Linked DNA regions of Homo sapiens. The protein of the gene in region 1 purifies or fractionates together with the protein of each later gene. This does not show direct contact. Each region holds a gene or a part of one and is shown on either strand. Other genes may lie near its edges.

Evidence for each region.
Region 2: the proteins of AKR1D1 (region 1) and GEMIN5 purify together in Homo sapiens (affinity purification with mass spectrometry; 3 studies listed by BioGRID and IntAct, with this or other methods). This does not show direct contact.
Region 3: the proteins of AKR1D1 (region 1) and DIRAS1 purify together in Homo sapiens (affinity purification with mass spectrometry; 3 studies listed by BioGRID and IntAct, with this or other methods). This does not show direct contact.

The regions. Positions count from the first base shown.
Region 1 is NC_000007.14:138,114,437-138,118,186, forward strand, and holds part of AKR1D1 (aldo-keto reductase family 1 member D1), read left to right. Parts: intron 1-2,183; coding exon 2,184-2,226; 3' UTR 2,227-3,750.
Region 2 is NC_000005.10:154,931,604-154,935,353, reverse strand, and holds part of GEMIN5 (gem-associated protein 5), read left to right. Parts: intron 1-3,103; coding exon 3,104-3,255; intron 3,256-3,750. UniProt on the Homo sapiens protein: The SMN complex catalyzes the assembly of small nuclear ribonucleoproteins (snRNPs), the building blocks of the spliceosome, and thereby plays an important role in the splicing of cellular pre-mRNAs.
Region 3 is NC_000019.10:2,719,718-2,723,467, reverse strand, and holds the start of DIRAS1 (GTP-binding protein Di-Ras1), read left to right. Parts: upstream 1-2,095; 5' UTR 2,096-2,164; intron 2,165-3,750. UniProt on the Homo sapiens protein: Displays low GTPase activity and exists predominantly in the GTP-bound form.

The DNA.
Region 1 (3,750 bases):
ATCACCTTAGGTCGGGAGTTAGAGATCAGCCTGGCCAACATGGAGAAACCCCGTCTCTACTAAAAATACAAAAATTAGCTGGGTGTAGTGGCAGTTGCCTGTAATTCCAGCTACTCAGGAGGCTGAGGCAGGAGAATTGCCTGAACCCAGGAGGCAGAGGTTGCAGTGAGCCGAGATCATGCCATTGCACTCCAGCCTGGGCAACAAGAGCAAAACTCCATCTCAAAAAAAAAAAAAAAAAAAGAATATATTTGCTATATATGTGTGTATAGATATACACACACATATACATATATATACTCATATACACACACATGCATTTTTTTCTTCTTAATCATTCTCTATTAATGTTTCCAGTTCTTCAAATCACCTGAATATTCATCTTCATCTTGAATCTTTAAGTGAACATTCAGAAAATGCTAAGATGATTCATATAGTTTGGACACTTACTTTACTGATCCTACTGTTTTTCATGGGTCAGAAAGTACAGTGACTGGATTAATATTGAATTTCTGAATTAATAAAACAACTTCCTAATGGAAATTTTTCAGGGGGAAAATTGTTTGACATCAAAAGGCACCACCACCCAACCTCAAGAACAAAAGAGTAAACATAAACACATAAATAACACTTTCCTAGAACTAACAGTTATAGGTTAATTAATAGCTCTTGAAGATAAATGACTTCTATTGAATCAATAATATATCATTAAGTTAAGAAGAGAAACCAGGTGCAGTGTCTCACATCTGTAATTCCAGCACTCTGGGAGGCTAAGATAGGAGAATCACTTGATGCTAGGAGTTCGACACCAGCCTGGACAACATAGCAAGACCCTATCTCTACAAAAAATTTAAAAATAAGCCATCATGGTGGCATGCACCTGTAGTACTAGCTACTTAGGACGCTGAGGTGGGAGGATCACTTGGACCCCAGACTTTGAGTGAGCTAAGGCTACGCTCCAGCCTGGTAGACAGAGCAAGGCCCTGTCTCAAAACAAAACAAAAAACAAACAAACAAAAACAGTATAATCAATCCACCAATGTACTAATTGTTTTACAGACAGTTGGTGACATTATTCAGTTTGACATCTGACATATTTAAAAGCAATTCTAGCAACTTCGGGGAAAAAAAAATAACTCTTACCAGGAAATAACTAGAAAAATCAGCAAGGTGGAACAAGAATTAGGCCCCATTAATCACAAATACTGTATCATTTAGAGATATTGGACCATGATTTTTTTCAGCTTTTATCAAGTTGATTTTTAACATTTGAAAATCTTAATATTTTCCATTTTAATTTACAGTACATGCAGAAAACTAAATCAGGAACACACACATTCCAGACATTTTACAGACCATTTCATCATTGTTATTTAAGAGCTAAATTCACTGCCATCATCATCGTCATAATCATCCAGCAAACTTATTTTGCTACTCATCACCTTTCTAGATCTCAAACTCTCAACACGCAGGAGGTCTAGTGAGAGGGGCAAGTAAAAATGCTAATGAGACTGGGTGTGGTGGCTCACACCTATAGTCCCAGCACTTTGGGAGGCCGAGACAGGGCGACTGCTTCAGCCCAGGAGTTCAGCTTGGGCAACCGTGGTGGCACATACCTATAATCCCTGCTACTTGGGAGGCTGAGGCAGGAGGCTTGCTTGGGAGCCCAGGAGTTTGAGGCTGCAGTGAGCTATGATCATGCCACTGCACTCCAACCTGAGTGACAGAGTGAGATTCCATCTGTAAAAAAAAGAAGAAAAAAATGCTAATCAGCAGAGGGTGACACTGGTAATAAGAGTTTTGAAGAGAAATGCCCATGTAGTGGATTGGAGAAGGAGGCAGCCAGCGTCAAGGGAACAGAAAGGGGGAAGGAGTAGGGAAGAGGCATGTGCACATGACATGCCTAAGACATGATTCACCACTGGGGATTCTGTTCTGAGTAAAATGTTGATAAGGTGGCCACCAACCTTCCCTCAACACACTCACATTCAGGAGGCTGTCCAGAGCTTCAGGAAAAGGTGCTGGCTTGAGGGAAAACAGAAGAGGAAAGTAGGTAAGAAACAGCAGAGGAATGAATAGGAGAGAGGGGTAGTGGTCAGTGAAATTCTCAAAGGATGCTATTGAAACATACAGCTGTGCAATTTTTGAGTGAACTTTTTTCTGTGGGGGAATTGTTTTGGCAGGTGGCGCGATCATCCTGAATACCCATTTCATGATGAATACTGACTGCAGGGAGTTCCTGAACAGATTTTTCACTCCCACGAGTGCCAAGACGGTGCAATGGGTAGTCCCCTAGATGTGAAAATGAAGAGAGAGGGTTTTACCATCCTGAGAAGAAATAATGATGGAAACATGTTTAATGTTTGTGCAGTGTAAATGACTTTGACTCAGTCACATTGAAGTAAAAATATTAAAATCTGTTGAAATAACTCTTAGGAAATTATCAACTAATTTTTTCAGATCAGTATCTTCTAGATTCCAGACAGAAAAAAATTACACTTCAGAAAAGACATCAAAGGCAACATATGACAACAAGTAATTTATGAATCTGGGTAGTAGCGTTGGTAATCTGAGTTCTTTAAGGGTTAACAGGACAACGAAGTGCATGTGGCAGTGTGCTGGCAGTGGCCTTGAGGCTTTGGACCATTGGTTACAAAACAGACACAGCCAAGATAAGATCCACACACACATTATTAACAAGGAAGTGATTTGCTGCACCTTGAGTTGAGAGGGCTACATGTAGAAAAGTCTTAAAATAGAGCTAAACACCACAGTGGTCAACAAAGCCATCATAATGTTGGTGTTTGTTTCCCTCCAATGTATGTATGTTTAGTTTTTATCCAACCTGAGGAATGAAAACTTAACTGGATCTCTCTTGCATCCTTAAAGGGCCTGAGTCTCAACATGGCTGCTGATCCATACTTACACATCTTACTGTCAATCTTGCCTACATTGATTATAGAACCACTATTACGTGAAAAGGCTTGAAACAACCAACATATACAAATAAAACCCTGCCTTGTAAAATAGTAAAAGAGAAGCCATATATTGGCTTTTCTTCTTAACTTGGGAGATATATTGAAACAAGGTGCTTTATAAGATTATTGTACTTAAGACTTTAATAGTGTTACTTGGATAGCTTATATGAATTTTGAGAATTTTATATGAATTTTGAGAAAGCAAGTTCAAAAGAACTCTGGTAATTTTCCTGTATGTACAATTTAAAGAGTGAATAAGATTATTAGAATTCAGCAATAGAGATATATCTATTTTCAATTCAACTACAGAAATATATTTTATTGGCCGGGTGCGGTGGCTCATGCCTATAATCCCAGCACTTTGGGAGGCCAAGGTGGGCAGATCAGGAGGTCAGGAGATCGAGACCATCTTGGCTAACAAGGTGAAACCCCGTCTCTACTAAAAATACAAAAAATTAGCCAGGCGCGGTGGCGGGGGCCTGTAATCCCAGCTACTCAGGAGGCTGAGGCAGAAGAATGGCATGAACCCGGGAGGAGGAGCTTGCAGTGAGCCGAGATAGCGCCACTGCAGTCCGGCCTGGGTGAAAGAGCGAGACTCCGTCTCAAAAACAAAAAAAAAAGAAAAGAAATATATTTTATTCATTCACATTAGGTCACTGTCATACTGTCATAGGATGAGAGAGTTCTTCAAAAATTATGTTTTCCCAAGATCAGTTGCTTATAGATAATGTTCAATGACCTCAAGACATATATTTTTGAGAAATTATCATTT
Region 2 (3,750 bases), on another chromosome or scaffold:
AAGATGTCTATTTTCTCTAATTTGAAGACTTAAGCAATTTCCCTAGAATGTTGAAGGAGAAATTCTGATTGGAGTGGATTTGAAAGACTGGGGGCTAAGGCAATAGAGATACACAAAGAGACAACAACTCTTTCACAAAGTTTGTTGTAAAAATGTGCATATACATGAAGCCAGAGGGGATAGATGGGGTCAAGGGAGTATTAAATGGAAAATACCAGGGACCTGTTTTTATGCTGATGAAAGTAAGGCTTGAAAAGAGGAAGAGCTTGTTGCAGGAGTAAACTATGATAAATGCAGGGGTATTGCTGAAAAGTCAAGAGGGGATTGGATTCAGATGACAAGAAGAAAGAACAGCTGGGAATATAGAAATAGGTGCAGGTAGATTTGTAGATGTGCTTGGAAGAAAAAGGTGTTCTATTCTGGTATTTCTGATTTTCTCATTGAGGCATAAGTCAGAGTGGTAGAGTCAAGTTCATCATGGGGTTGAAACTGGATATGCAAAGAAGGTATGAAAATGGTCAAAGAGAATAGGAAAACGAATGTACTAAGGAAAATTATAGGCCCAGTGTTCACTGTTGAGTGGCAAACAAAGAATCGTGGCCATAAATTTAAAGTAAACCCAAACTGTTTGAGAAAGGAGATGGTTGGATTCAGCCAGGTTTGGGGCTTTGTGGAGTAAGTACTCTTGAGGGAGAGGGAGAAGGAGACGGGGCGTACGGGTATTTTTAAAAGTTGATGATAAGGCTGGGCGCAGTGGCTCACACCTGTAATCCCAACACTTTGGGAGGCCGAGGCGGGTGGATCACCTGAGGTCAGGAGTTCAAGACCAGCCCGGCCAACATGGTGAAGCCCCATCTCTACTAAAAATAAAAAATCAGGCCAGGTGCAGTGGTGCACGCCTGTAATCCCAGCACTTTGAGAGGCCGAGGTGGGCAAATCACCTGTGGTTGGGAGTTCAAGACCAGCATGGAGAAACCCCGTCTCTATTAAAAACACAAAATTAGCCAGGCATGGTGGCGCATGCCTGTAATCCCAGCTACTAGGGAGGCTGAGGCAGGAGGATCACTTGAACCCAGGAGGTAGAGGTTGTGGTGAGCCAGGATTGAGCCATTGCACCCCAGCCTGGGCAACAAGAGCGAAACTCTGTCTCAAAAAAACAAACAAACAAAAATTAGCCAGACTTGGTGGCGCACACCTGTAAGCCCAGCTACTCAGGAGGGTGAGGCAGGAGAATCGCTTGAACCTGGGCAGTGGAGGTTGCAGTGAGATGAGATTGCACCACTGCACTCCAGCCTGAGCGACAGAGCAAGACTCTATCTCAAAAAAAAAAGTCAATGATAGTGATGGATCATGAAATCTGTGCTGCATTGGGTAGGGGGATGTATGGAAAGACAGGTGTGGGTGAGTGATAGTGAAAATGGAAGGGGACTGGATCGGCAGTCTCTTGAAGTGGGAGCAGTGTTGTAGTAGGGTTGATAGAGAGGATGAACAGAAAGGTGGTAGGCAGGAGTCAGGGGAGGATCTTCAGAATAGTATTATTCCCAGAAAGCTTGATTCAGATTTCTAAATAGCTTGATCTGTTGGTGATTAGGTTGCATAACTTGGCAGTTTTCAAAGTCCGGGTCTTCAAAGGTTGACATACTCTAGTGTTTCTTTTAAAAAAAAAAAATAAATAAAGCTGTGCTGGTGTTCTTCCCTGTCGAATGCTGTAATGTGTAGGAAGTGTGAATAGGTACAGCCACTTTGTATAATGCAGTTTTGTACTTTCTAATAAAAATGCATATATCTTAACATCCTGGCAGTTCCATTACTAGTCATCAAACCTGAAATTGTCTTAGATGTGTACATGAACATTAATAGCATTTTTTTGTTGTAAAAAAGTGGAAGCCCTTCAAAAGGAAAATGAATAAACTTTGAAATATTCACACAGTGCAGTACTAATACAATAGTGTAATGACTGGCCAGGAACTAGAGTTACGTGTATCAACATGGATGAATTACAAACAGAATGAGTGAAAAAAACAAGCTGCAGGAAAATAGATGATAGCATTTATGTGCAGTTTTAAAATATGCAAAATCTATATCTTATTTAGGAATATATACAAAGAAAGGCTAGGAATGATATAACACAATTCACAAATAGAGTTTGACCTCTGGGTAGAGGAAGAAAAGGAGAAGAGATCTGGCAAGGAGAGAGGTTTGATTGAAGTGGAATGTACAGAGGACTTCAGCTCTATTGGTAATTATTTTTCTTAGGCAGGGTAGTAGATTACTTTTTTTATGTATCTGAAGTCATTCATTTTTAAAAAGCTATTAGAATTTCTCAGTTTCTTTTGAATTCATAAAATGACAGCCTTGGAATATGCAGGTCTAGAGTGTAGAATTCTGCAACTTTTGTTAAGTTCACAGTTTAAAAAGTAGTATCACTTATAAAGAAAGAGATTATTTTCCAGTGCACTAGGACAAAATTATCTCTAGTTAGAAGAGTTGGCCGGGTGTGGTGGCTGATGCCTATAATCCCATCACTTTAGGAGGCCAACGCAGGTAGATTGCTTGAGCCCAGGAGTTTGAGACCAGCCATGAGCAACATGGTGAAACCTCATCTCTACAAAAAAATACAAAAATTAGCTGGGCATGGCATGTACCTTTAGTCCCAGCTACTCAGTCCCAGGCTGAGGTGGGAGGATTGCTTGAGCCTGGGAAGTCAAGGCTGCAGTAAGTGGTGATTGTGCCACTGCACTCCAGCCTGGGCAACAGAGAAGGAAAAAAGAAGAGTTGCTGCACCCTTGCAAAAACTATGAAAATTCCCTTAGAACAAAATCATGGTCCACTGTGAGTTTTGTACCAGGCAACATACATAGTATTACCTAGTGCCAAGAGTTTGATCATAGAGAGAAGGGTTTTAACAAAACCAGGAGGCATAAGGTGAGCACTTTAAAAAAAGGAAAAAGCAAAATTATTTTTTGTCCTCTTCCCTCCTCCGCCACCCCAAATGCACCTAACTTTAAGGAATGCGCCAATGGTAACTCCAAGCCAAAATGTTTACTAGAGACTCTGTTCTGTCTTCATTTTTTTAGTAATATTTCTAACTCTTGTTTTTTAGCTACAAGGATGGCATAGTGGTGATAATTGACATCAGTAAGAAAGGAGAAGTTATTCATAGGCTTCGAGGCCATGATGATGAAATCCACTCCATAGCCTGGTGTCCCCTGCCTGGTGAAGATTGTTTATCTATAAACCAAGAGGAAACTTCAGGTAGAGATGGTTTAAGGGAAAGTTAAGTCCACTTGAGACCTGAAGAACAGAACGGGTACAATTATATCATTTTTTATTTATTATTTATTTTTGGAGACGGAGTTTTGCTTTTGTTGCCTAGGCTGGAGCGTGATCTCGGCTCACCGCAACCTCCGCCTCCCGGGTTCAAGCGATTCTCCTGCCTCAGCCTCCCGAGTAGCCGGGATTACAGGCATGCGCCACCACGCCCAGCTAATTTTGTATTTTTAGTAGAGACAGGTTTCTCCATGTTGGTCAGGCTGGTCTTGAACTCCCGACCTCAGGTGATCCACCTGCCTCAGCCTCCCAAAATGCTGGGATTACAGGCGTGAGCCACTGCACCAGGCCGAATTATATCATTTTAATTATACCTAAAACTTCAAATTTTATAGTTCAGACCTATGAAAGAGATAGCTAAGTTTTGGAAACTCTTGCAAACTAATTTTTTTATATTAGTGCGTGTTTAATGTAAATTAA
Region 3 (3,750 bases), on another chromosome or scaffold:
CACCATGGGGGAGAAGCTCCTGCTGTCCTAGTTTGGGTGCTCGGAAGAGCTCACTGCCATCTGTGGCCTGGGCACCGCGGGCCATGTGTGGAGACCCCGTTCCTCAGGGACAGCGAGGAGGGGAACAGGGCCTGGCCTCGCCGGCTCACGCGGCCCACAGCCTGGCCTGGGAGCTATAAATAGCAGCCGCAGCGTGGAGTTACCGCCCTGCCCACTCTCCTACGCATGAGTCAGCCTGCCCCGGCCTGAGCTGGTGCCCGGAGGAGACAGGGAGCCGGCCCGACGCCCTGCCCCACGCTGGTGGGTCACTCAGGAGACGAAGGCAGGCAGGCGGACTGGGAAGGGGCAGGGCTGCCGTCTGAGTGCTTGGGTGCCCAGCAGCCCCGTGTAGGTGGGCGCCCTGCCCATGTGTTCCCAGCAACCCTACAGGCGGGCAACAGTGACGTCACTCACAGATGGGGGAACCGATGCTTGAGAAGGCACTTCCCTGCAGGCAGCCATGTAGAGCAGAAGCTGGGATTTGTCTGCCCTCAGGGCTGTCTCCATCTCCTGCTGAGGGCACCCCCAGATGAGGGTCAGGGGCCGGGCCATGCTCTGAGGTGCTCCCGCAGGGCTGGGGTCAGGGTGGGAGGGAGGTGCACGCCAGGAGCACTCAGGCCGGGCCATGGATGCCAGGCTGAGAAGCTGGACCTTGGCCTGGGAGAAGGGAGCCATGGGTGGCGTTAGAGCAGGGGAGGCCCATGTTGCAGTTGGAGCATTGAGTGGCAGAGTGGAAGGAGGGCTGGAGGAAGGGGTCTGGAGGCCAGGAGGGGGAGTGGGGTCAAATCAGGGAGAAATAGAGCTCCTTGAGCCCCAAAGCCGCTTGAACCTCAGTGCCCCAGCCTCAGTGGCAACAGGAGAGGGGACTGAGTGGTCTTGGAGGCAGTGCCAAGTCTCCGCAGAGGCAGATGGGCCCACCTCATCCAGGGCCATGGAAATGGTGGGTCATGGAGAACCCCAGGAGCTGAGGGCCCAAGGGGTTCACCTGCTCACAGGCCTGGTGATGGGGAGCTCACCACCTTCCAGACCAGCCTCTCACCCACTGATGGCTCTGACTCTGGAGAGACCCCTGTGGGTCCCAGAGTTGGCCTCTCCACCAAGGGGCGCCTTCCTCTGACAGCCTTGCGGCCTGGGACTGTCCCGCACCCACCCCTGAGAGCACCTTCTGGCCTGGTCACTAGACCCCAAAGTCCAGTCTCCTCTGGGATCTGCCCGATGAGGCCAAAAGGAACCTCGGCCTCCCGGTCTCCAAAATGGAGGCGGAACCATGGTCTCTTGTGGACACACAGACGCATCAGAAAAGCCAGTGCTCCCCTAAGACACCTCCTGTTGGGGGAACACAAACATTTTCCTAACCGAAAACGGCAAACCCATCCGCTGCAGAGCAGCGCCAGCCCCCTTTGCTCACCCCCCACCTCCCTAGGCCTGACTGCCATGGGCTGCCTCCGCCTCCACAAAACCAGCCCTACAGAGCGCTGAGTCCGCTTCTGCCCCCATCCCGCCCCTGCCCAGGCCCCTGGGATGGGTGGGCCTCCAGGTGCACCCCATTGACCTGAACCCTCCCGCCTCTGCCCGCTTCTAAACCTGTTCATTGATTGTTGATTATCGACTTACTCATTTCACAACGCACCCCTCTGATTCCCCGCCCTGCGTGTGACCGGGCCCCAGCCGGCCTCAGGGGTCCCGTTCTGCACCCCCTTTATCCGCATTTCTGCCAAAGCCCTCCACCCCCGGCTGGACTCTGCTCCTCCCAAGCCGGGCTCCTGGCCCCCACTCGGGGTTCCCCGGGAAGCGGCCCCAGCTCCCACCCCGAGGGAGGGCGCGCGCAGGTGGCTACGTGGCAGGGCGGGGGTCCCGGATCCTGGCGACCTCTCCCACCCCGGGCGCGGGCAGGGGTCCCGCGTGGGGCGGCGGTGACCTTGGCCGGGCGGCGCGCCGGCCCCGTGGGCGCGGGTCCCCGGGGCGGGGCGGGGCGGGGCGGGGCGGGGCGGAGCGCGGGGCCCGGCGGGCGGGGACGGCGCGGGCGCGACTGCGGCGGCTCGGGCGGGCGGGGGGCGGCGGCGCCAGCGGACACCGGAGCGGGCAGGAGCAGCGGCCGCGGCGCCGCAGGGACCAGCGGGCCCAGGTAGGCGGCCCGGGGCGGGGAGGGGGTCCCTGCGCAGCCCCCAGCCGGCCGTCCTCCCCGCCGCGCGTCCCTCCTTTGTCCCGGCCCCAGCCTCCCGGGCCTTGGGGCCGGGCCCTTCCCCGCGTGGCTCCGGGGCCCCTCGCCGGGCGTCCCCCGTCCCTTCCCGCCGGGCCCGGCCGGCCCCTCCGCGCTCACCTTGGACAGCTCCCGGCCGCCTCCCCTCCCCCACCCGGAGGGCGCCCCCCTGCCGAGCCCGCCCCACCGAGGCCCACCCCGCCGCCCCTCTCCGCATTGGTCCCCTCGGGCAGGGCCTCCTCCCTCCTGCAGCCGCCTTCTTCGCCCTCCGCCCCGCTGCCCAGCCAAGCCCCTCCCTCCGCGCCCCCTCCCCGGGGTGGGCTCCTCCTCTCCACCACTGAGGTCCTCCTGAGTCAAGGGTCGCCCCTGGGCTGGCCCCGCACTGTGCCTCTGCGCCCTCGGGCCCCCTAGAGCAGGCCCTTTCTCCATCAAACCCCTCACCGGCCAGGCGGCCCTGGGTCAGACCCCCGCCCCACCCTTGGTCAGGCGTGACCCCCGCTAGACCCCTGGGTCGCGGCTCTCTCTGCTTTCCTGACCCTGAGCTTTGCTTTGACACCCCCGCCCCCACCAACCACGCCGTGCCCGGCCGGGAGCCGGGCTTCAGGGACCCAGGGCTGGGGTAGATTGGCCCTGCCTGGACGTCTGGGGGTGGGCTGCCCCGCACAGGCGGGAAACCCCAGGAGTCTAGCCAAGCAGGGTGGGCTTCCAGCCCCGCTGTGCGCCTCCACCCCCCTGCTCTGTGACCTTGAGCCAGCCCCTCCTGCTCCTGCCTCGGTGCCCACGACCCCCTCCCTCCACCCGCACCCCCCAGGCGGTGGAGGTGGGAAGTGGCGTGGGCTTCGGGGCTGTTGAGTGCAAGCGCCTTTCTGGTCAGGGATTCCAGACCCAGCGGGGAGGACAGTACTGCTCATGGGGGCTGGAGCTTCAGTGCCCGCAGCAAGGCAAAGGCTGGATCTGGGTCCACAGAACCCATGGCCATTAGGACCCCAGGCCGGTCTTGGTGGCGTCTTTCTGCACAGCAGCGTGCCCGCCTCTCAGGGCGCCCACCCAGGAAAGGGCAGGGTCTGCAGCACAGGCCGCCTCCCCCCCACCACCAGCACCCCCAGCCTCCTCCGAATGCCGAGAAATTACTATGCATGTAGTCCACAAACCCGGCAGCCAATCACATGAGTTGGCATTGCCGAGGCGCCCAGAAGTTTGCCTGGCTCATCACAACTGGGGACTGTGTCAGCTGGCGCTTTCATCAGCCTCTTTTCTTTTCCTGGCAAATCTGTTACCCTTGATAATCCAGAAGGTGCCTTTGCAACCAACAGGCACAGCCAAGTGCCCTGCCCACCGGCCCCAAGCCCTTGTGACTGTGATCACAATTGTGATCGGGGTCTCCGCTGTACAGGGCACTGCCTAGGGCCTTTCTCCACCTTGTCACCTTACTTGCCCCAACAGTGGCTCGCATTTCACAGAAGAGAAAACGGAGGCTTAGGGACTTGAATTTGCCTGTTTAGGTTCAAACC